3 separate regions of the Homo sapiens genome follow, and regions 2 and 3 are each linked to region 1. Evidence: fine-mapped expression QTL. A gene starts in region 1. Each other region holds a variant in brackets. All regions are shown on one strand. Distances are between the middles of the regions.

Region 1 (10,383 bases):
GGCAGGGGAATCGCTTGAACCCGGGAAGCAGAGGTTGCGGTGAGCCAGGATCACGCCATTGCACTCCATCCTGGGCAACAAGAGTGAAACTCCGTCTCAGAAAAAGAAAAGAAAAGAAAAAAGATAATGAAAGATGTAGTGCATTGCTCAATAGTATTTATGAACATTAACATGTTTGGATATGTTTTATGAAACAGAAACAAAAGAATATAGTTAATTCATTTGATTATATGTTCATATTGAATTTGCATGTTGAGGGCCACATAGTAAGTAAAATAACTCTGAATATAAATTGGGTTGTATGATAATAATAATTGGCAAAATCAACAGATATTTATTTCATGGTAATTAAATTTATTCAATAACCTTTTGTAATCCATATTTACAAGGATCTTGCAATCCAATTACAAGATAATTGTTGACCACAGTCAAAGGTAGACATATAGAACTGGAAAACACACAATTGTTGCTACTGGATTATAATTGCTTCTAGGCCCCCTCAGATGACAGAGCAAAGAGACATGTGTATACTAACCTGTGTCTATATACACATTGATAAATATTTCTATATGTAACCATCTGTATCTATATTAAGTTAAGCATGAGTTCATACTGATGTCTCCAACTTTAATCCATTTAAATAAATGCAATAATATGTACTTAGATTTGCTCTTATCTTAGGACACAACTCAATTATCTTACCGGTGTTTTGTGTTCCAAAATTTTTAAAACTGCCTAGAACAAAGACTTGTCATGCCATCCAAATCTTATGGCTAAGTGACTAAGTTCTGGCCAGTGGGAAGGACAATTGTGGGGTGGGACTTATAGGGAGGCTTCTGAAAATGAGAACAGTTTGCTGACACACCTCTTTCCTTTACTTTTCCCTCCTTTTCTTTCCTCTTGCCTGGAACTCAGACAAGATGGTTGGACCACTAGCAGCTATCTTTGATCATGAAGTAATTATGAGGTTAGAAAATCATTTTAGACAGTAAAACAAAATGAGAAGTTTGGAATTTTGACAACTCAGAGCTGTCAAACTGGCCCTGGTTCTGCCTACATCCACACTACTTTTATGAGAGGAAAAACCAAATTGTTATCATTTGGACTTTGTTTTATCCAACCAAACCTGATGCTGATAGTTTTTGAAAGTGACTTTAAATGTAGTTTCTTAATCAAACTGGATTGTTTTTATGACTGCTTATATATTATTCAGAAAAAGACTTCTTGAGGAAAGTCACTTTGAGTTGAGTCCTAACAAGTGGGGAGTGTAGAAGCAGTATTAGAATGTGTGGAAAAGAGAAAGGAAGGAAAGAAGAAAAGCAGAGAACCTGAGGAACTCAGAGTGCTCTGGGAAAGGGAAAGAGTACTGCATTGTCAGGGAGGTGAGTACAGAGAGAATGATATCTTAGGAATAGGCGTAAAAATGATTAGATAGTGTGGGTATTGTTGGGAAAGTCTTATTCCTCTTCTTCCCAGATTCTGAGATTCTGATGACAGGAATGTTAGATTTTTTTTTTTTGAGACGGAGTTTCACTCTTGTTGTCCAGGCTGGAGTGCAGTAACGCGATCTCGGCTCACTGCAACCTCCTGCTCCCAGGTTCAATCGATTCTCCTGCCTCAGCCTCCTGAGTAGCTGGGATTACAGGCGCCCACCACCATGCCCAGCTGATTTTTGTATTTTAGGTAGACACGAGGTTTCACCATGTTGGCCAGGCTGGTCTTGAACTCCTGACCTCAGGTGATCCACCTGCTTGGGCCTCCCAAAGTGGGATTACAGGCGTGGGCCACCACACCCAGCTGAATGTTAGATCTTTTGTTAAGAGTCACAACACATGCCCCTGAGCTTCGTGGCTTTTTTTTTTTGAGACGGAGTCTCGCTCTGTCGCCCAGGCTGGAGTGCAGTGGCACAATCTCGGCTCACTGCAAGCTCCACCTCCTGGGTTCACGCCATTCTCCTGCCTCAGCCTCCCGAGTAGCTGGGACTACAGGCGCCCGCCACCACACCTGGCTAATTTTTTTGTATTTTTAGTAGAGACGGGGTTTCACCGTATTAGCCAGGATGGTCCCGATCTCCTGACCACGTGATCCGCCCGCCTTGGCCTCCCAAAGTGCTGGGATTACAGGCTTGAGCCACCTCGCCCAGCGCTTCGTAGCTTTTTAAATCCCAGTCTAGTTTCTCTCTGTTTAGATTAGATAGTTTCTACTGTTCTATCTTCTAGCTCAGTGATTCTTTTCTTTATTCTGCTGTTGAGTTAAAAAATTGTATTTCTTGCATTTTTTCAGTTTTAAAATTTCCATTTATTTCTTCTTTATATGTTGTTTCTTTGCTGAGATTTCTTTTTATTTAATTCAAGCATGTTTTATTGTTTTATTTTACTTTTTGAGAAGGAGTCTCACTCTGCCATCCAGGCTGGAGTGCAGTGGCGTGATAGCTCACTGCAACCTCCGCCTCCTGGGTTCAAGTGATTCTCCTGCCTCAGCCTCCTGAGTTGCTGGGATTACAGGTGCCCACCACCACACCTGGGTAATTTTTGTATTTTTTTGGAAGAGATGGGGTTTTACCATGTTGGCCAGGCTGATCTTGAACTCCTCACCTCAAGTGATCTGCCAGCCTCGGCCTCCCAAAGTGCTAAGATTACAGGTGTGAGCCACCATGCCTGGCCTCAAGCATGTTTTAATTGCTTCTTGAAATATTTTCTGATGGATGCTTTCAAATCTTTGTTAGATAATTTTAACTTGTCATCTCAGTGTTGGCATCTATTGTCTTTTTTATTCAGCTTGAAATCTTCCTGGGTTTTGGAATCATGAGTCATTTTTTAATTGAAATTTGGTATCATGAGTGATTTTTTGTTGAAATCTGGACATTTGGGTATTATGATATTTTGGATATTATTTAAACCTTTTATTTTAACTAGTTTTTCTTGACACTGCTCTGGCAGGGGGCATCAACTTGTAAATGGCAACTGGTAGTAGAAGTCTAGGTTCCTTATTCCACCTCTGTTGACACCAAGGGTGGGTGGTTCCTTGTTACTGCTGGGCAATGGTGGGAGTTTCAGCTCCCCACTAGTTGTCCACTGATACTTCCCTAGTTGAGAGGGCTTGGAATGGCTCCTTACTGCCCCCATGTAGCCTCCAGTGACACCATGGAGGGGAAGGGGTGTGACATCCTTACCATTGGGCAGTGATGAAAGCTCTGACTCTCCAATACACCTCCAATTACACCATCTAAGCAGGGAAAGGGAGGGGTACCTCACCACTGTAAGGTAGGAGTGGAAATCCAGGGTCGCCCTGTGGTTTCCAGTGACACTGAGAGTAGGGAAGGATGTGTGTGGAGGATTACTTGTTACTGCCCAGTTGAAGATGAAAATCCCATACCTCTCTTTGGTTTTCTCTGACATCACCTTAGAGGGGTTGAGGAGTAGAGCGATTGGGGTGTTAGGATGCTGGGGTGTCTCATCACAACCTGGAGAGTGTGGAAGTCTAGGCTCCCAACTCAGCCTTTGCTTTATGGGGTGGGGTCAGTGTGTGTATGTATGTGTGTATTGTTTGTCTACAGTGGAGTGATTATCTTCTAAATGTTTCCTTTCTTGCTAGGCCACTCCTTTTTCATCACTTGGCTAGAAAGAGCAGCCTTTTATTGGGGCACTTTTTGTCTATCTATGCTTCCTGGCATTTTGGGGTTTCTGGTTTTGGCTTCTCCAGCACCCAGTTTGGGGTATATAAGGCTACATGAAAACCCAAGGAACTTCCCACCGTGTTGCTCTCTGGACCCTAGCCAGTGTGACTTCTCTCCACCTTTCAAAGTCTCCCTATGTTTATCTTATATATAATGTTGAGTTTTTAGTTGTACTTAGAAGAATAGGGAGAAACCTATCTACTCCATCTTCCTGGAAGCGGAAGTCAGGGGCCACTATAAGGCATTGAAACAATTACAAACAAAAATGCGTGGCAAAGACTCAGGGAGGAGTTGCAGTGCCTTTCAAACAAGGGCATCAGGAGGGCAATCAAATGAAGAAAGCTAACCAGCCATAGGCAGGAACTGCATTTGCCAGTACAATAATATCTGCAAGCACCTTCAAACAGTAAGAATTACTTAAAAATTCATAACGCTTCTTTAAAATCATGGAAACCTATGAAAATTCCTTAGTTTATGAATCAATGTAGGGCTTCTTGGAGGAGACATTGTTGGAGAAGACAATGCAGGGCTTCTTGGAGGAGACACAGTTGAAAGACCAATTGCAGTTCAGGAGTTAATTATAGAAACCTGTAGTGCTGGAGGAAGAAAAAGAAAAAGAAACCTGTAGGCCCACATTTGTTGCCTGCAGGAGATCTATTCCAGCTAAAACCTGACGAAACCAGGAAGAGAGGCACAGGTGGGAAATGCTCCAGAAACTAATTTACCCCTAGTAGGGGTGGGGACCCAAATCTAGGAGAAGGTCTAATTGTTGAAATGAGTTTTTTCTCCCTCCCTCCCTTCGTCCCTTTCCTTCCTTCTTTTCATTTAGTGTTGGGTAGAGGGTTGGGGTGGAGTGATGGTCAAAGAAGGGCATTAACTTCCTCCCAGTTACAGATAGGGACCTTGCACTCTGTACAAGTTTTTAAGTTTTTGGAAACGTTGCCAGCATGCCCAGAAACATGAAAAGAGCCCAGATGGAAATGATCCAATTCCTTTGCTTTCAACTCCATGGGTTACTGAGTTGAAAAAAAGGTCAAAGTCAAATTTTGTTGATTGTGCTACTTAGATTGGGGTTCGCATTTCCCTAGCTACTCCATACACATTCTCTTTCCTGCTGTATTGCCATTCTCCAAAGGCTATAGTCTTGCTTTGGTGTGGTCATGGCTTCCAACCCTTTGGTGGAGTCAGTGGAGATGAGAAGGCCTGCAATTACCCCCAAGGGGTTTACAGACTCAAATATGTACACTAAGCATTGACAGAAGAATGACTAAATGTCTGTCTCTCTGCACCGCGCAGTGGCTCACGCCTGTAATAACCAGCACTTTGGGAGGCCGAGGCGGGCGGATCACTTGACGCCAGGAGTTTGAGACCAGCCTAGGCAAAATGGCGACACCCCGCCTCTACTCAAAGTGCCAAAAAAATTAGCCGGGTGTGGTGGCGCACGCAGGCCTATAGTCCCACCTCACCTACTCCGGAGGCTGAAGCAGGAGAATCACTTGAACCCGGGAGGCGGAGATTGCAGTGAGCCGAGATCGCGCCACTGCACTCCAGCCTGGGTGACAGAGAGACTCCGTCTCCAAAAAAAAAAAAGGTCTTTCTAATACACATACATATACTACTACTTTCTGGATTTTATATTTAGTTTTGCTTACAAAATGGATTTAGGGTGTAGAATTTTCAAAGATTAGAGAAATATGCCTTGAAATAGAAAGTGCAAGTTTCTAGTAACTCTTCCCTTCAAAGATAATGTTACCAACTTCTTTTCCTACTATTTTTAGTATTGAGAAACTGTTGTGTTAAGTAAAATCAAATGAATTTAAAAGTTATTACACACATGGTAGCTTTCTGAGTGTTTTTCAAGCTGCGAGTCAGTTTTGTCCTTTTTAACACGCAGCGGTTGTGGGGACAAGGTTTCCGAGGAGGCGGGAGCGAGCGACGGCCCCCGCCTCCCACACGCCCTCTGCTTTGGTAAACAAGGAGACTCCCGCCCGCAGGCTGTAAATGAGGCACGAGCTTGGGGGCAGCGCCAGGGCGCCTGGCGTCACTGTTCAAAAAGGCCTCTTATTGGTCCTTCGCACAGCTGCGGACCTGGGAATTCTGATTGGTCTGCTTCCCTGTCCGTAAAGGGATTGACAGGCCCTGCCGCGTCAGGCCGCTCCTCTCGGCTCCGCGCTCCTTCCCTCGCGCGTGGGCACCCGCCCCCGAGCGGTGAGAGCGCGTGCGCGCGCGCCCTTCTCCGTGGGCGAGCCAGCCAGTCCCGCTGCACACGCTCGCAGTCTGTGGGCCCTCCGGGAGGCGGCGGAGGTCACCGCGGGGAGAGGGGCGGGCGCAGCATGGCAGCCTCCTTACGGCTCCTCGGAGCTGCCTCCGGTCTCCGGTACTGGAGCCGGCGGCTGCGGCCGGCAGCCGGCAGCTTTGCAGCGGGTAAGGACCTCACGCCTCCTCCCCCTTGTCCTTCTTTCGGCCGCTCGCTTCTTCTGTCCAGACGGCCGAAGAAGTCTTTTCTCGGGAGGCCCTGCGGTTGGGCTGGGGCTTAAAAAACAATATTTTGGCTGGTACTAAAGGCCTGTCCTTTTCTGCGGCCGCCACTCACTCCGCGAGTACCCCCCTCTGCCTTCCCTCCCTTTCTCCCGGGCTCCTGATGAACGGGTTCAGCGCCCTTTTCGGGATTTAGGAAGAGGTGGGGAAGAGCTTGGGCTGAAGAGAAGAGAGTATTTGGGACCCCGGCATGCTGCTTTGGAGTTAGGACTCCGAGGACGTTTGGAGCGCCCAACTCCAGGAGCAACCCGCACTCACCCCAGCGACCCCTGGTCTTTCAGCGCCCCCAGGGTGCACCTTGGGTTGGGGACACACTTGGGCAGCAGGGCCTGATGTTTAACCACCTGAGTCCGAGGGGATGGCCTTATTACACAAGCGGTGGCTGTACAAGCCAGGCAGTAAGTCTTTCAGCAAAGTTTCAGTCACCCTTGACCAGCAAGACGGGCTTCCCCCCTCTACTGTAACCTAAAAAAATGTCATTTTTGTCAAATTATGAACCAAAACACGTTCAGCGTCCTCAAGATTGTGGGCAGAATTAATCCTGCCTCCCTCCTCTCATACCATGGTAAATTGTGGAAGCTAGCCATGAACTTACAAAGAGGCAGTTTTTAGAGCCAGGATGAAGATCCACGGAGATCTAATACAGTCTTTCATACTCCGCACGAGGGACATGAGGCCCCTTGGATGAGTGAATCAGGATATTCCCAGCAAGACCTAGAAAGTTGTTATCAGTTGTTCCTAATTCCTTAACTTTCTATCACACCAGGACTCCTCTTTAATTGAAAAATTGGTTGATTTGTGGGGGCACTGCCGTTGTCTTCCTCAAACTGAAAGTTTGAGAGTTGTAACAATGCATCGTTTAGCAAGATCATACTGAGGATTAATAACAAAAAAAACCTTGGCATTAATTTTTTCTAATCTTTGCTTAAAAAAAAAATAGTGGGTTAGGATTTGAGCCCCTTGGCCCCCCGCCCTTTTTTTTTTTTTTTTTTTTTTTTGAGACAGGGTCTCTGTCGCCCAGGCTGGAGTGCAGTGGCCCAGTCACACTGCTCACTGCAGTCTCGACCTCCTGGGCTCAGGTGATCCTCCCACCTCAGCCTCCCGAGTAGCTGGGATTACAGGCATGTGCCACCACGCCCGTCCAATTTTTGTATTTTTAGTAGGGACGGAGTTTCGCCATGTTGCCCAGGCTGGTCTTGAACTCCTGCGCTCAAGTGATCCTCCCAAAGCGTTGGGATTATAGGCATGAACCACTGTGGCTGGCCAGGAATTGTAAGAACTTTCTCTTACAATTCTTAACAGCTTCCCATTCTCCCCCTCAGTGAAACCTCTGAATTTCCTTTCTGGCTGGAGAAGAACAGAGGCTCGGTGAGATGCAAGAGACCAGATGTCTGATACAGAACCACAGTAACAAGATAAAAACTCAGAATATGCCAAACTTGAATGTAACCACTGTTTGAGCTTCATATATTGAGCTACAAAAATGCTTCCGACTTTTGAGATAACCCTAAAAGAATAGACACTTTTCCACAGTAGCACCAGTTTTCACATGAATTCACAATTCTTTCAGTTCCCATTAGCCAAGGAAGACATATTTGCTGTTTAGTGGTTTTACAAGGTGTTCTAATGGTATTTTAATGAACCCTTGATGTACCTTTTAGAGTTATGAAAGTTCTTACCAATTCATGGTGAAAGAGCCTGAGGCCTAAGACTGTAATACGTGCCTCTGTAAACTGGGAGGGCCTACCTCAGAGTGCTGATTAGACTACTTTGGCATATGGTCTTGTACTTTGGGTTCTTTGGCCCAAAGGTAATTGTCAGAATATAGATTTCTGATAAATTTTAAATAGTTCTTTTGTGATGAAGTGGTTAAATCACTTAAGCAATTTTTTTTTCTCTTGAAAAAAATTTTTTTTTTTCCCTCGGAGTCTTTGTCTGTCGCCCAGGCTAGAGTGCATTGGCGCAATCTCAGCTCACTGCAAGCTCCGCCTCCCAGGTTCACGCCATTCTCCTGCCTCAGCCTCCGGAGTACCTGGGACTACAGGCGCCTGCCACCACGCCCGGCTAGTTTTTTGGTATTTTTTAGTAGAAACGGGGTTTCACCATGTTAGCCAGGATGGTCTCTATCACTTGACCTCGTGATCCGCCCGCCTTGGCCTCCCAGAGTGCTGGGATTACAGGCGTGAGCCACTGTGCCCGGCCTTTCTTTGGAATTGTTTTAAACATTTAAATTTCTGTTAATTTTAGTTTACTGCAAAAGTGTTAACTTTTCTGACATTAGATTCTTAAAGAGTAGAAAAAAATCTGCCTGCAAGTTTGGAGTCAAATGACATTAAGAAAAAGAACCATGTTCAGATAGTAATGTGTGATGTTCTGAATTCTGTTGGATATTTGTAGTATGTTTAAGATGTTTATATCATATGAATGATAATATTATAAGGAGCTATATAATTTACTGTTTAAAAAAATGAAACCTGAAAGTTGCCGGTTAGTAGCACATCTTTTTAACTTTTTTATAAATACATTTTAGAGACAGGTCTCCCCGTGTTGTCCAGGCAGGAGTACAATGGCACCTACTTAGCTCACTGCAACCTTGAACTCCTGTACTCAAGTGATCTTCCGCCTCAGCTTCCCAAGTAGTTAGGATTGCAGGGTGCACCACGATACCTAGCTAATTTAAAAAAAAATGTTTTTTGAGACAAGGCTAGTTGCCTACTACGCTGGTCTAGAACTACTGGCGTGAAGCCATCCTCTTGCCTTGACCTCCCAAAGTGTTGGGCTTACAGGCATTAGCCACTGTGCCCAGCCTGCCACATCTTAATTTTTAAATGTTTGTTTGTTTGTTTGTTTGTTTATTTGAGATGGGGTCTCTCTCTCTCTCTTGTCCAGGCTGGAGTGCAGTGGTGCAATCATGGCTCATTGCAGCCTCAACCTCGTGGGCTCAAGCAATCCCCCTGCCTCAGCCTCCCAAGTAGCTGGGACCACAGGTGCACACCACCACACCTGGCTTTATTTATTTATTTATTTTTTTTGTAGAGATGGGGTCTCACCATGTTGCCCAGCCTGGTCTTGAACTCTGGGGGTCAACTGATCCTCCTGCCTCAGCCTCCCAAAGTACTGGGATTACAGTCATGAGCCACTGTGCCTAAGCCTAATTTTAAAATACTTAAAGCATTGAAAAGGAAATAGAAGAATGAGAAATGTTAAAGTGTACATGTATTACTATTTCATCACCTGTTTGATAAAATTGTGTATGTTATTTTAGAAGGTAATTAAGTTTAGTTTCAGACTTATTTGTACAGAGAAGAAAATCTACAGCTATAGGCCCTCTACAAAATGTCACGTTGTGACTCTACAGCTTGTACATGGAAAAATAAATCACATCAGATCATCTTGAGGTGACCACCTGACCAAAGGTAGAATGGAAAAATTAGCATCATGTATAGAAACAGGAATACAATTTTTAATATTATTGGTCCTTTTTGTATATGTGAAATTTACTTTCAAAGTAGCATAACTCATTGGATAAATCAAATATATAATGGCAGTTTTTCCCTTTACATTAGCTTCTAGGGCTGCACATGAAGTTCTGAAAAGCTGCTCATGGTCCGGGGCCTAAAAGTTGACCCTAAACTTGTGAAATTACATAAGGAGCGTATTTATTACTAAAATAAGTTGACTGAAACCGTAAAGGCCTTTATAGAGAAAGTCGTCACCCTTAGTTTAGTAACTGTTAATAGTAAAGCAGATAGAGTGCTTATGACGTAGTATTATGTGATAAAATAGATATAAAAAATGTATTATGTGATAAAATAGACATACATTGTATAGAAAATATAACCTTATGATATAATGAAAAATGCAGTCAAAAGACTGAAAGTCCATGCAAAATGTTTTTTTTATTTTTGTGTAATGAGATTGCTTCCCCTTACAACTGTATACTTTTTCATTCTAGTTTTCTACAATGAAAATGCATTACTTTGAATAGAAAAGAAGCCTCAGAAATGTAAAATAATTAACTTGTTACCAATTTTTGCATTTTGACACTTAGTGAAACCTGCTTTTTGATAGCACTTAAGGTTATCAAGATACGGATAACTCCCCTTGTTACATTGGAGAAAGAGGTCATAATCGGTAAATTTGCATCTATAAATTTAGAAACAAACTTT
Region 2 (10,383 bases), 91 kb after region 1:
GGGTTTAAATTTAACATAAATTATTATTACAAGGATATGGGTCTTTTAAAAAGATTTGTATTCATTTTAAGAGAGAAATGATGCTTGGCCAGGCACAGTGGCTCATGCCGGTAATCCCAGCACTTTGGGAGGCCGAGGTCGGCAGATCACCTGAGGTCAGGAGTTCAAGACCAGCATGGCCAACATGGAGAAACCCCATCTCCACTAAAAATAAAAAATAAGTCAGGTGTGGTGGCGCATGCCTGTAATCCCAGCTACCTGGGAGGATGAGGTAGGAGAATTGCTTGAACCCGGGAGGCGGAGGTTGTGGTGAGCCGAAATCATGCCACTGCCCTTCAGCCTGGGCAACAAGAGCGAAACTCCATCTCAAAAAAAAAAAAAAGAGAGAAATGATGCTTGGAAAGTTCACAAATGTGCTGTAGAAGTAATTTCTTCCGAAAGGTCATTGTTATAGAAATCTCTTTAAGAAAAATTTAAGAGATGAGCTGGATTTGTTTTTTACAGTTGTTAATCTATTGCCTTTTAAGATAAACCTTAGTAATTTGGTATGCATTGAATCAGAAATTGTTGGTGTCTTTGAATTTTAAAATCAAGTATGTTTTCAGTGTGTCCCGTGTGTATAGGCAGTGAATAGATAGTAGCATGACAATTGTATTAATGTTGATTTCATTTCTTATTGGATAGTAAAGAATTAGTGAAGTCAGTTTCTAATTATTAATAAAATACCCCAAACACCCAGCCCCACGGTTTCACAAATAGGTGCTCGATCATAATTTGTTAATGAATGTGTGACACTTGGGTAGAAGCAGGAGAGCTTTTTGGCATTTTGTATTTGCCAGAATATACTTTAAGGAGCTAAGTATAGGAAAAAGGAATATTTCCCTTTATAATGAAAAGGAATATTAACATCTTCAAAGTAATTGCCTTATTTAGGGTAAATAGGTTCTTCAAATCTATGCTGACTCTTTAAGAGAAACAATATAGCATTGGAAAATTATGGGCCACTAGAGGTCACTGTTTAGTAATCAACTTTTAATGAACCAGAACAGTCAGGAGAGCCAATAAATTACAGTGTGGATTTTTCTAATTATGAATTCATATTTAATCATTCAATGACAAGTTAACTTTGGAAATGGTTTTGTGTACTTTGCATATGTGGTTATGCTAATGCACTATTATATTTCTCTGATGTTGGCCCTCCATCATTAGAATAGAACATTGCCAAAGGCTTTGTTATATAATCTTAATTACTAATTATGAGACATAATTAACCTTGTTACCGCCTCCACATCCACACAGTTTTTGGAAATAAAGTTTTACTCTAAATAACAATTACTTTTAAGTGAACATAGGTGTAATGGTTATGATCAGTTCCTCCTCCTCCCTCATGTCTTGTCTTCCTGCTTCATTCTTGGTTTCCGTTGCTCCCATCCCTTTCTCTGCTGTCTTATTTCTTTCCTTCCCTCCTTTGGATTCCTTTTCCACTTTATTTTGTCAGTGATTGAATGTTTCTTCTCAAGCTTTCCAGCCTTGATTCAATGAGTAGAAGAATGTGACTTTTACTGCATATGTTAAAGTAATCCTAGGGTGGGCAACTTGAGCTGAGCCAACCAGCAGTGCAAAGGAAGATTGTATGCATATAAGCAAGCATGCTGCTGCTGCTGTTGCTGCGAGCAGATGGCTGTCTTCAGGCTGTCCAGCCCAGAATCCATTCAGGAAAAAGCAGATTTCCGTACTTACATGATAAAAACTGTTTTCCTCCTTACAGGCTAGGCTAGTTGCTCAAGAGGAGGCCTCATGATCTTAGGGAAAAAACAACATGTGCACATGTGTTTCCTTTTTTTGAAAACAGCCCTGTGCATTATTTCTTAGAAAGCAGGCACATCACACCATTGCTCGGACTTCCTCTACTTCTTGCTGCTTTTACCATCCCTGCTGCTATGCCACTGCTATACAGTTATATCCACCTCACTGTTCTGAGATTTCAGTCTGCCCAAGATATACTTCTGATAAATTGTTCAGAAACTTTCTCTGGTTCCTGATGCTCACCCAGTCCAGCCCAGTCTTCCTTCTCAGCCTGCCATTCAAGGCTCTCCACACTCTGGATCCAACTTACTTTTCCATTCTTATTTTCTGCTACTTCTTTCCACATGCCTTAAATTCTAACCAAACTGGACTATTCACTAATTCTTAAATATTTACCTTATTTACTCAAGTCCCAATGTAGATGCCACCTCCTGTGATCTCTCCTTAGGTAAAAGTCACCCTCCCTGTGAAGCACCATGACAGGTTAGGGTCTCACCTACATTGTAATTACTGTATACCTATGTTCTCAGCTACACTGTAAGTCCAGAGATTCTTGACAAATAAATCAAGAGTGCTAAAATTTCCAATTAAAAAACCTATTTGGCAGAGTATCTGGCTTTCTAATTTTATTCTGGGAAAAGTAAAATAATTTTATAATGCTAAGGTTTGTAATATTAGGGAAGGTCATGGGATATCCTAGAACTCTCATCTACAAAAGATAAGATAAGCCTTTGTCCAATAAGTTGAGCTCTGTCTGAACACATAAGAATAGTAGTCAGCTTGCCCTTCTCGATTACCTGCTTTATAATATCACTGGGAATACAAACAGTTCTCTATTAAATCTCCTAAATGAGAGGAAAATGTATTTTATAATTTAAAATGGTATGTTCATTTTGTATGTACATAGCTCTATTTTGAAGAAATTGAGTTTTGTTAAAACAGTCTTTTGCTTATAACAGCTCCAGATTGCTTGTGTTTTGGTAAAAATAAGAGATGTGGAAGATACATGGATTTTGAACTTGAACTATATTTTGGGGGCTCTTTTCAAGTATTAGTTCCAGTGGCTGAGTACAGTATGTAAATTTCATTATTATTAGAGGGGGAGGTGTGCATAACCACTTTTTTTCTCTATTAGAGCAGCAATAATAAAGTTTTGCATGTCTGAACCTATCTATGTACTTAGTTATGACAGAAGCTAACTTGCAAGCTTGTTTGTTTACAAATAAAAAAGGTAAAGAGTTACCTGTTTGGAGTTTGGAATGTACTTTCCTTGGAAAAAATATTTTCTAATATATTTAGGTCCCTATTATTTTCAACCTCACATATATTGAGAATATCCCTAAATTATAACACAATTAGCATCATATTTCTGTGGGAAATGATTTCAGAGATTCTTCGTGGGATACCAGCCCCTCCTATCCTATCCTTTGAGGAAAAAAAAAATCACCTGCTATCTCTTCCTCCCCTTTTCTAAGCTGTGGGATCTGAAATTTTCTCTGGGGATTCACCTGCTTTTCCAAAATTCCAACTATCTAATTTCTAAAGAGATTTTCTAACTCTGTATTTCCATCACAGACTTTTCTGATTTCTGGATCTGCATTTTTATTTATTGGACTCCTTCAATCAAGCTCATTTTTGGAGTCAAACTTTTTCATTTCAGTAAAACCAGCTCTAGCTCTTGGTCCTCTATAGTATATTACAATTTCAGTTTTTCTAATCTTTTAGGTTCAAATTCTGAAAGTAGCACTGTCCAATAGAAATGTAATATAAGCCACATGTGTAATTTAAAATTTTTTAGTAGTCACATTAGAAAAGTAATAAGAAACACAGGTGAGGATAATTTCAGGAATACATTTTATTTAACCCAGTATATCAAAAACATAATTTCAACATGTAATCAATATAAAATTTATTCAGATACTTCACATTTTTTCATACTAAGTCTTTGAAATATGTGTGTTTTACACTTAAAGCACATCTGAATGTGAACTAGCTATATTTTAAGTTCTCAGCAGCCACATGTTGCTAGTAGCTACTCTGTGGGACAGGACACAGCCTTAGAGAGTCTGCCGCTACATTTTTCTCTTAGCCAGTGACATATTCTGGTTCTGCACTACCTGTCAAAGTTTGTTAAATACATGCAAGGAAATTTACAGAATTTTTCTCGTTCCTTTTTTCCTATACTTCTTCCACTCCTGTTTTTAGAATAATGCATATATCAGCCACTTTGTTAGAATAAGTCATGGTCTTTGCTCTCAAGAAGCTCATACTCTAGTCTAGTCTAGACGATGTCTAATCAGTGAGATGGGCATGGAAAAAGATACTGTGTTACAGTATGGATCGGTAATTGCCATAACAGAGATATAAAGAAGTTCCATGATAAGACGATGATGTAGTTAGGGTCATCCACATTTACCAGATCTGATTGCTAGGCAGTTGCTTTCCTGAAGAAGTAATCCATGTTTACCATGTATTATGGGGCTGGATGAGGACATTCCAAGAAGAGATAGTATTCAAAGTTGAGAATTAGAAAAGGGCATGGCATGTTTGAAGATTAAATGAGAGTCAGTGTATCTGGAGTTTTGTTTGTTCTAAATTCAGCTACTTACAATTTTCTGCACAAATTCCCTACTTTTTTCGCCTTTATGCGTTTGCTTTTGCAGATCACTTTACACAGAATTTCTTTCTCTGTCCCTAGTCGTTTCTTACCAGTATATATAATCTTAATCATCTTTCATGGCCCATATTGATCTGATCTTTTTAGTGAAGCTTCTTTTACTCTTCTGTTGTAGTTTTATGCCCCAAATGAATGTGATATTTCTCTTCTTGGAATTTTGAACATTTTAACTTTTGTATGACAATATTTTGTGTATTAAAGTTAATTTTATAATGCAGTAATAGTCTGGCTCACCAAATCAAATTCTTAATTTGAGCAAGAATTGCATATTAATTATTTTTGTATACCCTGAAGAGCTGAGAGTGGGTTCCTTGTATACAGAAGATATTCAGTAAATACTTGATTCGTGGATAATAAATATTTTTATGAGATATTTAAAACAAAAGCACAAAATTGAAGTGATCTAGAGATTTCAAGTACCTAATGTTTCTTGTAGATTACTTTCATGGAAAGTCTTCATTAACATGATTGACTGCTGTATGTAGTTGGATGAAATTTCTTGATTTCATTTGTAAAAATAGATGTCATAAAAGCAACATTCTGCTGTAATAATGAAGGTGCTAATGGTAAAGATGAAACCTGTTTTATTATGAGAAAACAGTTAAAAGTATCTTGGCATAAAAATACAATGGAAATCACTCTTTACTTTGACATTTAAGGACCTGTTTTGTTTCTTTACATAGCCATCTACTGCTTCTGGCAATATGGTAGACTAGGTATATTAAAATACCCTGCTGCTATAAAATACCGGTGGCTGGATAAATTACAATAAATGTACTTTTAAATGCACTTTACATTTCTCATTAGAGAATGGAGATCTTCAGT[G/A]ACCAAATAATCGAGTAGTAATCTGAAATAAGAATAATAAATAAAGCCAGAAGCTCTGGCTGACCTGGAAGCAAATGCTGATTCCAGAAAACAGGGGCTCTGGACGTTAACATTTGTGAGTAAAACAATCATGGGGTAATGGAAACCTAGGCCCTATGCTCACACAAAGTGAGAAAGCCAACCCTTAGGCCCCAACAAAGCCAAATGCCCAAAGAGGCCATAACTTCTGGGAGAAAGGGTGTTCTATGGATCGTAAGCCTGCTAGTTAAAGAATCTAACTAGGAAATCTGTCTGTCTATGCTGGTTACAGGTTGAGAAATAAAGTATATTAGTTTCTCCTGAATCTTTACAATAGTAGCTCTGAATTTATGGGCATAGAGTTCAAATTTAAATTACTCATCCAATTGGGAAGATACTCAACCAATAATTAAATTTAAGACCTTAATTTGGTAGGGCTAGAACTTGTCATCCATAGAAGAATAAAAATTCTTTCTGGAGAAAATCATCCTTAATCCAGGAATCTTAGAACTCATAAATATCAAGTACAATAAATGTAAGCTCACAGTTAAAAAAAAATTACCAGACACAAAGGGAGACAGGTCACCAGACAAGCCAACAGAAACAAAAATATTCAATCTCTACGAACTGTAGATACTGATGTTTCCAAAACAGAGTATGAAATGACTATACATAAAACATTTAAAGAAATAAAAGATAGCCTGGAGCAGTGGCTCATGCCTGTAGTCCCAGCACTTTGGGTGGCTGAGGCAAGTGGATCACCTGAGGTCAGGAGTTTGAGACCAGCCTGACCAACATGGAGAAATCCTGTCTCTACTAAAAATACAAGAAAATTAGCCGGGCATGGTGGCACATGCCTGTAATCCCAGCTACTCGGGAGTCTGAGGCAGGAGAATCACTTGAACCTGGGAGGCAGAGGTTGCAGTAGACCAAGATCACACCATTGCACTCCAGCTTGGGCAACGAGAGCAAAACTCCGTCTCAAAAAAAAATAAAAATAAAAGATAGATTGAAAATGAATAAGGATCCAGAAAATGTCAGAAATGACCGAATTTAGAAAAATCATTGAAATTTAAAAATTAATAGATAAATGGTATATGGGAGCAGAAGAGAGAGAATTAGTAAATGAGATATCTAAAGAAATAACCCAAAGGTACTACAGAAAGAGTTGGAAATGGAAAATATGAAAGAAAAGTTGAGACATGAATAGAAAGCTAGAAAGAAAAAGTTATGCATGCATCTAATTGGAGTTCTAGATAGAATGGGAAGAGAGTGGTCAACATGATGATATCTGAGAATTTTTCAGAATTGACATAAACCCACAGAAACAGGAAGGACAATGTATATCAAATAGGAGTTTAAATTTTTTTAAAAAAGAAATCTTACTAAATACATGATAGTAAAACTACGCAGTACCAAATACAAACGTGTAAAGCAGCTGGGAAAAAAAGACACATTACCTATAAAAGAACAATACAGACTGATACCATACTTTCTTTTTACTCCCCCCACCGCCCCCAGCATTATTGAGGTATAATTTATATACAGTAAAATTTACCTGTTTGAAGTGTAGAGATTGATGAATTTGGACAACTATATATAGTCGTGTAACCGTCATCACGTTTAAGGCAGAGGGGAGTTTCTATCACTCCAGAAACTCCCCGCATGCTTTTTTGTAGTCAGTTCCTTCCTCAGCCCTAGGTAAACACTGATTTGCTTTCTGATACCATAGTTTTGCCTCTTCTAGAATATCGTGTAAAAATATCATGTAAATATCATGTACATATGCATGTAGAATTCATACAATAGGTAGCCTTTTGTGTTAATAGCAGACCTCCTAAGAACAACTGAAGCCAGAAAACAGTAGAACAATATCATCAAAATACAAGTAACTGTCACCTTAGAATTTGCATCCAACAGAACCAAGAATGATAGTAGGTTCCAGTTGTGGTTAAGATGAAGTAAATATACTGTCCTTTCTCTCCTACTGAATGTGTCTAAAAACCTTGGGCAGAGTGCCTGGAGAAGCTGTCTGAGGACTCTGAAAGGTAAATGATAGCAAATAGACTGGAGAAGGAAAATAGAACTTTTAAGTACAAAAGCTCTGGCAATGAGTTTCCTGGATCCTTTCCCCACTTTTTGTATCTCCCAGTCTGAATTCAAAGACAGCATGAATCCTAGGACTGTGCACAGGTGCAAACAACAAGAATTCCAAGGGAAATTTCTGATCCAAGGAGCAGGAAGAGAGGCTCTATGAGACAGAGAAAGTGGAAGAAATGCTCTGTCTTGTTTTTCTTCCCTCCCAGCTCTGCCATATGATCCTCTCTTCTGAACCTGCAGTTTTGTGGTGGCAGCAGCAGCCAACCAGACACTTAAAAATCCAAGGGAAGTGAATCCTCTCTGATCAGAGGAACTATGGTCCAAACAGTGTAGAATGATTCCTATTGCTTTTTTCTTTTTTTAATTCTCTTGCTGTTTGGCCCCAGAGACAGATCTAGTTGCAGGAAGTACAAGACTTTCTAGTCAGAGGACCGGGTGGCAGTGGGGGATGGAGGTGGGGTAGTAGAGTGTCAGAGAGTGGGGCCCTTCACAGATAAGAGGGAGCTCATAAAGGGACCGCATGATGTTATGTATGAACTTCTGGGCCCACCCTTGAGCCATACAACATAGATCTGACCCTAAACAGCATACCAAGTAGCTGTGGGATAGATAGCCCACCCAGATATCAGGCTGGCTCCTGGCTGATGCACATCTAGGACAGATTCAAATACATCCTGTTCTTCATAGAATTGGAGCAAGACCCAGAGTCTCATAGCATCTTATATCCCAAATGTTCATGATATGATACAAAATTACTTGACACAAAAAGAACCAGGAAAGTCTGATTAAGTCTCAAGGGAAGAGACAAGATACCAACCCTGAGATTACCCAGATGTTTTATATTAGGCAGTGATTTTAAAACAGCTGTTATAACCATGCTTTAAGAAATAATAATCTCAGTTAAGAAAAAGAAGCTATAAAAAAGAACCAAATGGAAATTTTATAACTGGAAAATACAATAATTAGAAATTTGAAGAAAATCACTGGATATGTTCAAAAGCAGAGTGCTTGTGACAAAGAAAAGAGTCAGTGGATTTGGAGACAGAAATTACATGAATGGAAATTATCTAATCAGACTAAAAGAAGAAGACTGTAAGAAAATGGACAGAGCCTTGGGATCCCCTGAGATAATACCAAGAAATATCTAACATTTGTGCCAGTGGAGTTTCATACAGAGATGAGTGTGGTACAAAAAAAAAAATTTGGAAAAAAAAAAAGGTGGCTGAAAGCTTCCCAAGTTTAGTGAAAGACAAACTTAGAGGTTTAAGAAGCTCAGTGAGCCCCAAATACAATAAAGAAATCTATGCCCAGATTATCATAAACTACTAAAAACCAGACACATAGAAAAAATGTTGGCTGGGTGCTGGCTCACGCCTGTAATCCCAGCACTTTGGGAGACTAAAGTGGGTGGATCACTTGAAGTCAGGAGTTTGAGACCAGCCTGGCCAACGTGGTGAAACCCTGTCACTATTAAAATACAAAAAAATTTAAAAAAAAATTAGCTGGGCCTGGTGGCAGTCACCTGTAATCCCACCTACTTGGGAGGCCGAGGCATGAGAATTGGCTAAACCCTGGAGGCGAAGGTTGCAGTGAGCTGAGATCATACCACTGTACTCCAACCAGGGTGACAGAGAGAGACTCTCTGTCTCAAAAAAATAAAAGGCTATTTAAAGAAATAAAATTGTTTGAGATCAGCTAGAAAAAAAAATGATGCATTACAGGGGAACAATGATTGCAACAACTTCAGAAAAAAACATGTAGGCCAAAAGGCCAGTGGAATAACATTTTTGAAGCACTGAAACCAGAATTTTATATGTGACAAAAATATGCTTCAGGAATGAAGATGAAATAGAGATATTCACAGGTAAAGGAAAACTCAGAAAAATTATCTCCAGTTGATCTGCTTTACCAAAAAAAGGATAAAGGAACTTCTTCAGGTAAAAGGAAACTGATACCAGAGAGAACTATAGAACTGCAGGAAAGAAGAGAAACAGAAATTGTAAGCATTTGGATAAATACAGTATTTTTTCTACTTTTAAGTTCTTAAAAATATGTGTGATGGTTGTGATTAAAAATTACCAATGCCCCTTGACTTACAGTGGGATTACATCCCAGTAACTCCTGCATAAGTTGAAAATATTGTAAGTTGAATGTGCATTTTCAACTTAGGATGGGTTTATCTAGATGTAGCCCCATGGAAAATCAAGGAGTGTACTGAATGCATATGGCTTTTGTACCAATGTAAAGTCAAAAAAAATCGTAAGGCAAACTAAGTCGAAGGCCATCTGTAAAACATTGGTGGAATTTTCTATATATGTAAATGTAATACAGATGACAACTATAATATTAAAGGCAGTAATAGTAAATTTTCTACATTTCACTTGATGTGGTAAAATATTAATTTTCAATGGACATGAAAACTTTAGTATGTATATTGTAATCCCTAGGTCAGTCACACACGTGTGCACGCACGCACACACACACCCTATACAAAGATGCAATAGATAAAATGGAATATCAAAGAAATATTCAAATACTGTAATGCAGAAGAAGGTGGGAAAGGAGAAAGAGAGGAACTAAAAACATAGTGGACAAGCAGAAAATAAACTAGTAGACTTAAATCCAAACCTATCAATACTAACATTAAATGTAAATGACCTAAATACACCAACTAAAAGGCACGATATTATCAGATTGGATTTAAAAAAGAGACCAAAATGTGTTTACAAGCAATCCACTTTAAATATAATGATGTAGGTAGATTAAAAGTATAGAAAAAGATATACCATGTAAATACTAGTCAAAACAAAGAGCAAGGAAAATTACCAAAGGTATAGAAGGACATTACATAATGATAAGAGTCAATTCACCAAGAAGACACTAACAGTCCTAAATTTGTAGGTACCTAATAATAGAGCTTCAAAATACATGAAATAAAAACTAGCAGAATGAAAAGG
Region 3 (10,383 bases), 96 kb before region 1:
ATGGTGAAACCCTGTCACTACAAAAAATACAAAAATTTGCCAGGTGTGATGGCATGTACCTGCAGTCCCAGCTACTAGGGAGGCTGAAGCGGGAGGATCGCTTGAGCCCAGGAGGTCAAGACTGCAATGAACCATGATGGTGCCACTGCACTCCAGCCTGAGCGACAGAGTGAGACTCCGCCTCAAAAAAAAAAAAAAAAAAAAAAAACAGAGAGGAGAGGCAGACAATCTATAAGATAAGAGAAATTCTTGTGGCGCTTTAAAGCAAAGTAGCAGTCCACAAAAAGGAATTAAGAGAGGGGTGGAGCATGTCAAAAAAAAATACAGGAGCCCACTTGAAAAGCTCCAAATGGCTAAAGCTGAAACAATTTAAGTAACAAAAAAAATATGGTATTAGACTTTATTTCACAGAAGAAATTAATGATTCCATGGAGAAGAAGAAAATTCTTTCTAACGTAATGATCAACTAATAAATATACAAGTAATGAACTTCATTAGGCAAACACCACAATAATCGTAGGCAAGATGCACAGAGGGATACTAAAATTAGTGGCTGAAAATATGAGGAGAAACAAGATATTTCCACAGTCTCAAAGTAGCTCCCTCATAATATTCATTAATTACAAGGGAAAAAAATAATAACTTTATTTACAGTGGAGAAATCCAGAAGACACAATCTTAAACAAGCAATCAAGATTATTATAACCAGTAATAAGATGTATGGACATCACATACTCCCTGATAAAATGTACTGAGAAAGGTACAATACTGTTTCTATGGCATTCTTCCCAAAAATGCATAACTTCAATCTAATCATGAGAAAACATCGAGCAAAACCAAGATGAGAGACAAGCTACCAAAACAAACAACACCACAAAATGCTAACAGTACTTCACAAGAAAGTAAAGGTTATGAAAGATAAGGAGGAAACCAAGGAGACTAAGACAACATGACAATTAAATACAAAGAGGAATTAAAGACTGGATCTAAGAACAGAAAAAGAACAGTAATGGAAACACTGGTGAAATCTGAGTAAGGTTTGTACTTTAGTCAATAGTACTGTACCACTGTTAAACTATTGGTTTCTTAAATAAATGTACCATGGTCATGTAAGATGCTCACATGACACGAAGATGGGCAAAGGGCATACAGAAATTCTGTGTACTACTTTTGCAAGTTTTCTTTACATCTAAAATTACTTCAAAATACAAAGTTTAAATAAATATCATAGACATGTATCTGGCAACATACATTTTTAAAGATTTTAAAAATCCACCCTCCTAATAGCTACTAAAAACTTACTAATTCATACCAACTTCCAAATAGCCACTAGGCTTATTTAAAAGCTTAACTAGAAAACAAATATATAGCATAATTAATCAGCTCTGGCATCAAGACATTAGAAACTGTACAAACTAGGTATTCAAGGTCTGATTCTTTTTTTTTTTTTGAGACAGAGTCTCGCTCTGTCACCCAGGCTGGAGTGCAGTGGCCTGATCTCAGCTTACTGCAACCTCCACCTCCCTGCTTCAAGCAATTCCCCTGCGTCAGCCTCCCGAGTAGCTGGAATTACAGGCACACGCCATCACGCCCAGCGAATTCTTTTGTATTTTAGTGGAGACGGGGTTTCACCATGTTGGCAAGACTGGTCTTGAATTCCTATCCTCAGGTAATCCACCCGCCCCGGCCTCCCAAAGTGCTGGGATTACAGGTGTGAGCCACCGTGCCCGGCCTCAAGGTCTGATTCTTTAAAAAACAAAAACTTCACTAAAATAAACTGCTAAAAAATATGGTTCAAAACCATTTGAGATAGACATAATTATTCAGAGCTGCAATTTAAAGCTGCCTGGAAAAACTTGTCAGATGGATACTGAAAATAAAATGGGAAAAAGTGAAAACTAAATTTTCGAGTCAAATTTTACAGACTGTGCCTTTAGTATTCAACAAGATTATAATAAATAAATAAGGGTTCATTTAGGAAAACAATCACGTTTAGGTATTGTTAGATGTTTTGGGTTTTGCATTTCAGGATTCTCATTACTCATCCACAAAATGAGCAAAGTGATTTGCATTATGCTTGAAAGCCCTTCTATAACTCTAATATTCAATGACTAAGCTTTCCCTGACTTCCTTATATAACAAAAAAGTTCTAGGCACGGAGATGCTTTTATTTCTGAATTTCAAAATTCAAAATAAAAATGAACTGTTGAATTTTCAGAAACTTGTAAAACATATTGCATTTAGGCTTAGTGCCCATGAATTTTTGAGACAGGTTCTCACTCTGTCGCCAAGTCTGGAGTGAAGTGGTACAATCTCGGCTCACCGCAACCCCAGCCTCCTGGGCTCAAGTGATCCTCCCCACCTCAGCCTCTCAAGTAGCTGGGACTTTAGGTGTACACCACCATGCCTGGCTAATTTTGGGGGTATTTTTTGTAGAGATGAAGTTTTGCCAAATTGCCCAGGCTGGTCTCAAATTCCTGGGCTCATGCAATCCATCCTCCTTGGCCTCACAAAATGTTAACATTAGAAGTGTGAGCCACCATGTCTGGCCCAAAAATGTTTTTAAAGTATTAACAGAAATAAACTGGATGCTTTTCTCTACTTTTTAACCACTTTTAAACTTACTCCTAAGTCCCTAATAAACAAAAGCAATAGTCACTATAACAAATTGAATAAATTTTTTTCAACAGATGGAGTCTCACTATGTTGCCCACACTGGTCTCTTAACTCCTGGTCACAAGCCATCCACCTGCCTCAACCTCCCAAACAGCTGAGATTACAGGTGTGAGTCACCACTTAAAAAATAAGTTAACCTGGCAGTTAACTTATTTTTTAAGGGGAAACCAATCACAATAAAAATGACTAAAAATAAACCAACAGCTTTCAGGAAAGAAGTTTTAAATGTAACAAAACCGGTTCCAATACACACCTAAATTTTATTATCTAAAAAAGGCTATTAAAAGATAAACTACATATATAACTTACAACATTTCCTTATCCAAAAAACATCTATGAATACCTAAATCATTGCCCATATTTCACCACAAGTTTTATCCTCTGCATACTGGTTTCCTGGCACAGAACAGAAGGAAATTTCTTTATATATGCAAGTTCCATGAACTCACATTGCCAATTAATGTTTAGACCAAACATATGCAAAATTCAGAATAAAGTGAAAAAAAGTTTTTAAACAAACAGACCACCAAAATCCAAAGCAATGACACCATCAAATGCTGCTGAAAATGTGGAGCAACAGGAACTCTCATCATTCATTGCAGGTAGGAATATAAAATGGTACAAGCCACTTTGGAAGACAGTTTCGCAGTTTCCTACAAAACTGAACATGCTCTTATACAATTAATTAATTACATTCCCTGGTATTTACTCACATGAAATGAAAACTTACATCCACACAAAAACTTGCACAAGAGTGTTTATTGCAGCATTATTTGTAAGTGCCAAAACGTGGAAGCAACCAAGATCTCCTTCAATAGATTCATAAACTATGATACATCCATTCAATAGAATATTAATCAGTAATAAAAGAAATGAGCTATTCAAACCACTAAAAGACATGAGGGAATTTTAACCACATGTTGCTAAGTAAAAGAAGCCAATCTGAAAAGACTACATATCGTTATGATTCCAACTCTATGACATTTTACGGCAAAACTGTGGGGACAGTAAAACATCACTGGTTGCCAGGGTTTTACCAGGAGGGAAGGAGAGATGAGTTGGTGGGACACAGGAGACTTTTAGGGGAGTGAAGTTATTGTTCTTTATGATACTGCAACAGTAGGTATATGTCTTCATACATTCATCAAAATCAACAGAATTTACATCACACAGTGAACCCTGATGTAAACTATGAACTCAGACAATAATAGTGTATTAATATTGGTCCATCAATTATAACAAATGGAGCACACAAGATGTTAAAATAAAGGAAAGCAGGGAAGGGTGGTGTAAGGGATTGCAAGAGAACTCTACTTTTCATTCAATTTTTTCTGTAAACCTAAAACTGCTCCAAAAAAGTATGTTAATTTTTTAAAATTAAACTATCTGAAGCTGATTAATCTGAGCCTAGTTATTTTAGAAGGCTGCTCTGCACATGTCACCAAAATCCAAGTCAGATATTGCCTGATAAAAAAACAGGACATTTTAACTTAGATAAGACCATATCAATTAGATAATGTTAACAATTATTTGCTGAAAACTGTCTGCCATGCCACTGGTTCCCAAACTTCTACATAACAGAATCACCTGTTGATCTTTTCAAAATTCTAAAACCCAGGCCATACCACAGACCAATTAAATCACAACATCTGGAGGTGGGACATAAATTTCTGTGTGTCTTAAAGCACGCAGGATTCCAAATTAAAGTTAAGTTTGGAAATCACTATACCAAAGCTATGTGCATAGGCTCCAAGTTATGCTGCCCTTAAAACAGGCTGATGCTCTCTCTTAGCGACTATAACAAAAACTGACTGAAACTCAAGGGAGGGATCACTGTAAAAATTTTTCAGCCAGGTGCGGCGGCTCATGCCTGTAATTCCAACACTTTGGGAAGCCGAGGCGGGCGGATCACAAGGTCAGGAGATCGAGACCACCCTGGCTAACACGGTGAAACCCCATCTCTACTAAAAATACAAAAAAAATTAGCCAGGCATGGTGGCGGGCGCCTCCGGTCCCAGCTACTTGGGAGGCTGAGGCAGGAGAATGGCGAAAACTAAGGAGGCGGAGCTTGCAATGAGCCGAGATCGCGCCACTGCACTCCAGCCTGGGAGACAGAGCAAGAAGCCGTCTCAAAAAAAAAAAAAAA[T/AT]TCTAAAATAAATAATACTAGAAATGTTTATCCCAAATTCAAACTGTTTTTTGGTTCCTTTCTGAAGTAAGTATTTGCATGCTAACAAAGTATTTTCATTAAATAAATATTTTAGTATAGTTTGGTTTTTTAAAGGTTTTTCTTTTAGTTTGTTAAAACAAATTTAATTTTTAACATTCTGAATATGGTAAACCAGATCAGATAAGGGAGAAATGATTTGGGGTTTCATTTTAAAGATTTAGGGCCAGGCATGGTGGCTCACACTTGTAATCCCAGCACTTTGGGAGGCCGAGGCGGGTGGATCACCTGAGGTCAGGAATTTGAGACCAGCCTGGCCAACATGGCAAAACCCCGTCTCCATTAAAAATACAAAAATCAGCCAAGCGTGGTGGTGAGCACCTGTAGTTCCAGCTACTCAGGAGGCTGAGGCACAAGAATCGCTTGAACCCAGCAGGCAGAGATTGCAGTGAACTGAGATCACACCATTGCACTCCAGCCTGGGTAACACAGTGTGACTCCGGCTCAAAAAAAAAAAAAAAAGATTTACAAAATTTTAAAATTGCATTAAAATATGTGAAAATGTGTGAGACAATAAACTTTATTTTAAATCATTCATCTCATAATCCTGAGCACATTTTTTTAAAGTAGTGATTCATACAATGTAAACTTCTTTCTGCTAACATAAGAACATTCTTAACAGAGCCCATTGCTTAAAGATATGAGAAACCCAGAGGAAAAAGTCTTAATTATTAATAGCCAGCCCCAGGGGAAAGCAATAAAGTCCTAGAATTTTTTTTTTTTAAACATAAAGGCAAATAAAGTTCTCAATAGCAAAGAGGCAGTTTTAGGGAATGTTCAACTTGGGGTTAAAGGATACAGAAAATTCAGGTCATCCATCAACTTTAATGGAGAAAAACATTATATTTTTATTTTTACTAACATCTAACTAAAATTTTAGCATGTACTTTGATTACTATCAGTATTTGTGATTTTTGTCACTAACAGGAATTACTTATATGTTAATACCACATTACAATTGTTACAGGTATCTCAATGTTATCTTACTTGGAAATCATGGCAGTGATTAAATCTGCCAATAAAATACATCTTGTTAACACACAGATTTTGAAGCACATGTATTAATATATCAAAAATTTGTTACTGTGATATTTTAATTATTTCAATATAATTGGTTTTCTTTGCAATTTTATGTCTTATTTTATATACATTAAAATATTATTCTGAGACAGAGTCCATAAACTTCACCAGACCAAAAGAAATCTATGACATATACAAGGGTAAGAATTCACTTTAATACAATCCTAAAGTCAGTACAATTATAATACAAAATTACTCTGCAGCAAATTCTGTGATAGATCTCTGAATAAGTGTTATTTTTTTTTCAAGTTTTTAAGTTGTGCTAAAAAACACATAAAATTTACTATCTCAAGCATTTTAAAGTGTATAGTTCAATGTTAAGCACATTCATATTGTTGTGCAACCACCACCACCATTATCTCCAAAATTGTTCTCATCTTTTAAAACTGAAACTCTCTACCCTCATTAAACAATAACTCCCCATTCCTCCCTTGAGGGAACCTGAATGCCCTGCAGACCACCATTCTACTTTCTGTGTCTATCCCTACTCTAAGTACCTCATATAGCGGAATTATGCAGTATTTTTCTTTTTGTGATTGGCTTATTTAACTTATCATAACATCCTCAGTGTTCACCCATATTGTAGCATATGTCAGAATTACCTGAATAAGAGTATTTTTTAAATTTTGTAAATAATGCCAAGCTAACACAAAAATGAATTTTATATTACTTTATCATTTTATAATAAAGGAACTTACACATGACAGAATTCAAATAACTATAAGTTCTGTTAATCATGTTTGTGGTTTGCATCTGGACTATTTTCCTCACCTCTTTTTTGTTACATTATTCTAATATCTGTTATTACTATTGTATTGTTTTCTCACTTGAAAAAAAAAAATCTCCAAAAATTAGTACCTAAAAAGAAACCCACTCTTCAGTGAAAGTTAAGACAACAACCAATAACTTTTAAATGTCTACATAAAATATCATGTGGCCTACACCAGACAGTTACATTCTTAGGGCTTTTGCTAAGTAAAGACACTAACTAATTCAACTTTGGTACCCTGGAGATACCTGAACAAATCATTACAATGGAGTACAACATCTTTAATGGCAATAAGACATCTAGTTTCATTGAGTTCTGCAGTTTTCAGTCCTTACCTTGGAATGCTAGTACACAATTGACTGTTGATCCTTCCACATAATGTTCAGGCATAGGGGACCATAAAAACGTGTAATAATCACGAGCAGTACTCCATCCAACCTAAAGGGAAATAACAAAAAAGGCGGATTTATAAGCAAATAGTTTAATATTAGGCTCATACAGCATACTGTTTATTTATTGTATTTTACAGTTAAAATATACATTTAATATGTTTACAAATCATGAGTATTTTAACAAGCATGTCAAATTATTTCTAAATTAAACTACAGCCTAATGCTATAAAAATCTACATAAATTGAATAGTAGAGTTTCTACTATATTAAAATGCAATTTGCTATCCAATTTCTCAAGGATAATCTAACTATCCATATGATCAAATATAAAAATGTGTTTTGATTAAAATTTAATTTCACTAAACACAGTGAGTTTTTAAATACTTGTTATTTATTTTTTATTGACCACAGAGTATTATTTTCAAAGGTGGCACATACTGAATGTCTAGCAGATCCAACAACTGAGGGAGTTATAGACTAAAGAAAATTAATATTTAAAATATTAGACATGCATTACAAATTCACCTCTGAAGAATTTTCACATATATCAAAATTCAAAAAACTTAATTTATACCTCCAATGTAAGTGTTTTATTTGTTTTACTTAGACATCTGCCTCCCCCTAAATCCACTAAATTCACTAATCTCTCATCTTTGGCAAGTCTTGCCTGCAGCCAATTGGCAAATTTTGTAAAAAGACCTTTAGCACCAAGATGTTTATATATGCACAAACAGACCACCCATGTCTCACCTAATGCTAACACATTTTCTACTTACAACATGAATATATACATACCTCAATCTGTATTTTCCAGATGGACTAAATACCATGTTAAATATTGAAAATTGGAGATGTTTAAAACAGGTACTAGATATCCATTTGCTAGGAATATTACAAAAATTTATGCATCAGCCACAAGGTTAGATTATCCATGTTCTATGATTCTGATTGGCCTGATTGTAGACAACAGAATACTGAAGCTGGACGAACCTTAGTCACCTTTAGCCTCCAAAGGAATGGTTGAAACTACAGGTTACAAACCCAGTAAGAAGTGATAAAACCAATTTAGTGGTTCATGACTGGCATTTATTTTGTAATTATATAGAAGAGAAAGTACTGGAGTATATTAAGGGTAAGTGTTTCATGAAATTTAGTTTCTGGTGTATCTGCATGCTGGGACAAATCTTACAATTTACTTTGTTCTGTGTCAAGGTAAAAAACATTTGACACTATTCATCTCTTTACGGATATGAAACCTGAGGAATCAGTGAACAAGTCATTTACCTCACCTGTTTGAGCCCATTTTTTTCCTTTCACAGTTGTTGGAAGAATTAAATTAGGTAATGAACCTAAAAGCAGCATCTGAAGTGCCTAATCCATGGCAAACACTCCATGAATGGTAGTTATTATAGGTGTAGTATTTTGTAATAACTAAGAGCATAGGGTGTGAGGTCAGAATACCAGAAAAGATAATTTGCTAGCTGTATGGTTTTGGAAAAGTTATTCATTTCTATTTTCTCCTCTGATAACAAAAACAGTCTCAAAAGGTTGTGTCTGTATTAAGTGAGTTCATCCCTGTATTTAGCACAGTGCCTATCACATAAGTGCTTGTTAGCAGCCTGAGAACTGAGCCTACCAAGAAGTTGGGGGCAAGATACAATCCTGAGTAAAAAGTCAGAAATATAGAACTACACTTCAAATTGCTTTTGAGTAAGGAAAACTAAAACTAAACAATAGTTCTTAAGTTACTTAGAGAGGGGCATGTTGGGCATACATAAAAAATAAATGTAGAAGTCTCTCAACCTGGAAAGATACAGAGAATGGGCTCCTTTGGGATGTAACTGTCTTATATCTAAGCTCCCACATGAAAGTATGCTAGAGTGGATAATACTGGAAGGAACACAAAAGATGAACATCAGGAAATTATGCAGGAGTCCACTGCAATAATAATAAATCTAATTAGAAGGGTCAATAAACCATAATGTGTCCAAACCAAAGGTTGATTCTCTGTTTTATTTTCCTGGTCACCGGGCTAGAACTTGCTGCTCAATGCTACAGGACACACTGAAATGCAAGAAATCTTGTCTTTTAGTCCACCATTACCAAGTGTAAAGAAAATTATTACACTTAAAGTTAATAACAGCAATTTTCAAACATTGAAAAATGGCAGGGAGAACATGGCAACACTTTGGACAATGGGACAAAATACCAGTTATATAAAACTGCCAAAATACATTGCTTCTAGGAGATATACCTGAATCTAGTTAACCAGTTAATTGTAGTCACAGATACCACTGGAGGCTGTATGTATGTTAAGAGAGAAACTAAAGCAATGAATATGTCACATACTTTAGTTTGAAGAATTACAACAGCAGTGGGCATCATTCTTGTTACTACTGCAACAGCAAAATAAATGAGAAAATGGAAATTAAACAAGGGTGACAGAGAAGGGAGAAAGCCACAAAGTGTTCCTTTTAAATAGGATTAACATTTCAGAAAAACATGTTGGATAAGTTTTGATCATAAAGGAAATTCTGAGAAAGAACATACAGAAGACCAGAATAACATCAAAGTTACCTAGAAAAACATCAAGATAATAAATCCTGGAGAAACATTGAGAAAAAGACAGAAACATTAGGTTGAGGAAAGCATATGAGACACCACTTGGAAAGAAAGAAAGAAATAGAGAAGAGGGGACTGATGTTTGGAGATGAATAAAGGGAGACAAGCCTTGGAGTAGGAAAGGCACTGAAAATAAATGAGCTGATTACATATGGATATAGGAGGATTCCCAAGAAATATAATTAAGTGAGGAAAAACGCCCACAAAAAAGTATCAAATGAGCCTATGAATTTTTCTAATCCAGAAACATACAACAACAGACATCACTGGGGAAGGTAGGAGTACAATGGGTAGAAGCATTCATTTTCCTTCTTCTGTATACAATGTAGCTTCTAAAAATCATGTTACTAGAAAAGTTCCTTTAGGAAAAAAATGACTGCAAAAATGCCTAGATATACACAGGGAGTATGCAACATTGATTCAAAAGAGAAATATCATAAACAGCATAAATTCCTCAATGAGATAAAATGGTACAGAACTAATTGTAAGTGATTAAGTGAAAAAATCACGGCATTAAAAAAGGCATGAGATATGCCAGCAACATTCAAAATATATGCATTAGAAAAAAGACAAGCCAGGTGGGGTGGTTTACGCCTGTAATCCCAGCACTTTGGGAGACT

Direction of the effects. Positions count from the first base shown, and alleles are read on the strand shown. Sizes are in standard deviations (SD) of each study's normalised expression. Not every link is listed here.
In carriers of allele AT in region 3, the expression in naive CD4 T cells of the gene that starts at base 5,915 in region 1 tends to be higher than with T alone (large effect, 0.79 SD a copy in Schmiedel 2018).

What was found.
Region 2: its variant is fine-mapped to the expression of HIBADH in whole blood (TOPMed, PIP 0.98).
Region 3: its variant is fine-mapped to the expression of HIBADH in naive CD4 T cells (Schmiedel 2018, PIP 0.95). The same link has a PIP of 0.9 or more in B cells.

Annotation. Positions count from the first base shown.
Region 1 is chr7:27,658,415-27,668,797 of GRCh38, reverse strand. HIBADH (3-hydroxyisobutyrate dehydrogenase) reads left to right here and starts at 5,915. Exons shown (of 8, transcript NM_152740.4): 1 at 5,915-6,100. The coding sequence starts at 6,010. The region is part of intron 2 of LOC105375211 (a long non-coding RNA gene); the gene reads right to left. RefSeq lists a silencer at 5,726-6,145 and an enhancer at 5,361-6,178.
Region 2 is chr7:27,567,166-27,577,548 of GRCh38, reverse strand. The region is part of intron 4 of HIBADH (3-hydroxyisobutyrate dehydrogenase); the gene reads left to right. Among named protein-coding and RNA genes, the nearest start is that of TSL, 44 kb to the left of the region's middle. RefSeq lists a silencer at 8,855-9,042. The variant G/A (reference allele first, on the strand shown) is at 5,309.
Region 3 is chr7:27,754,835-27,765,217 of GRCh38, reverse strand. TAX1BP1 (Tax1 binding protein 1) reads right to left here. Exons shown (of 17, transcript NM_006024.7): 3 at 7,085-7,187. Among named protein-coding and RNA genes, the nearest start is that of TAX1BP1-AS1, 19 kb to the right of the region's middle. The variant T/AT (reference allele first, on the strand shown) is at 4,823.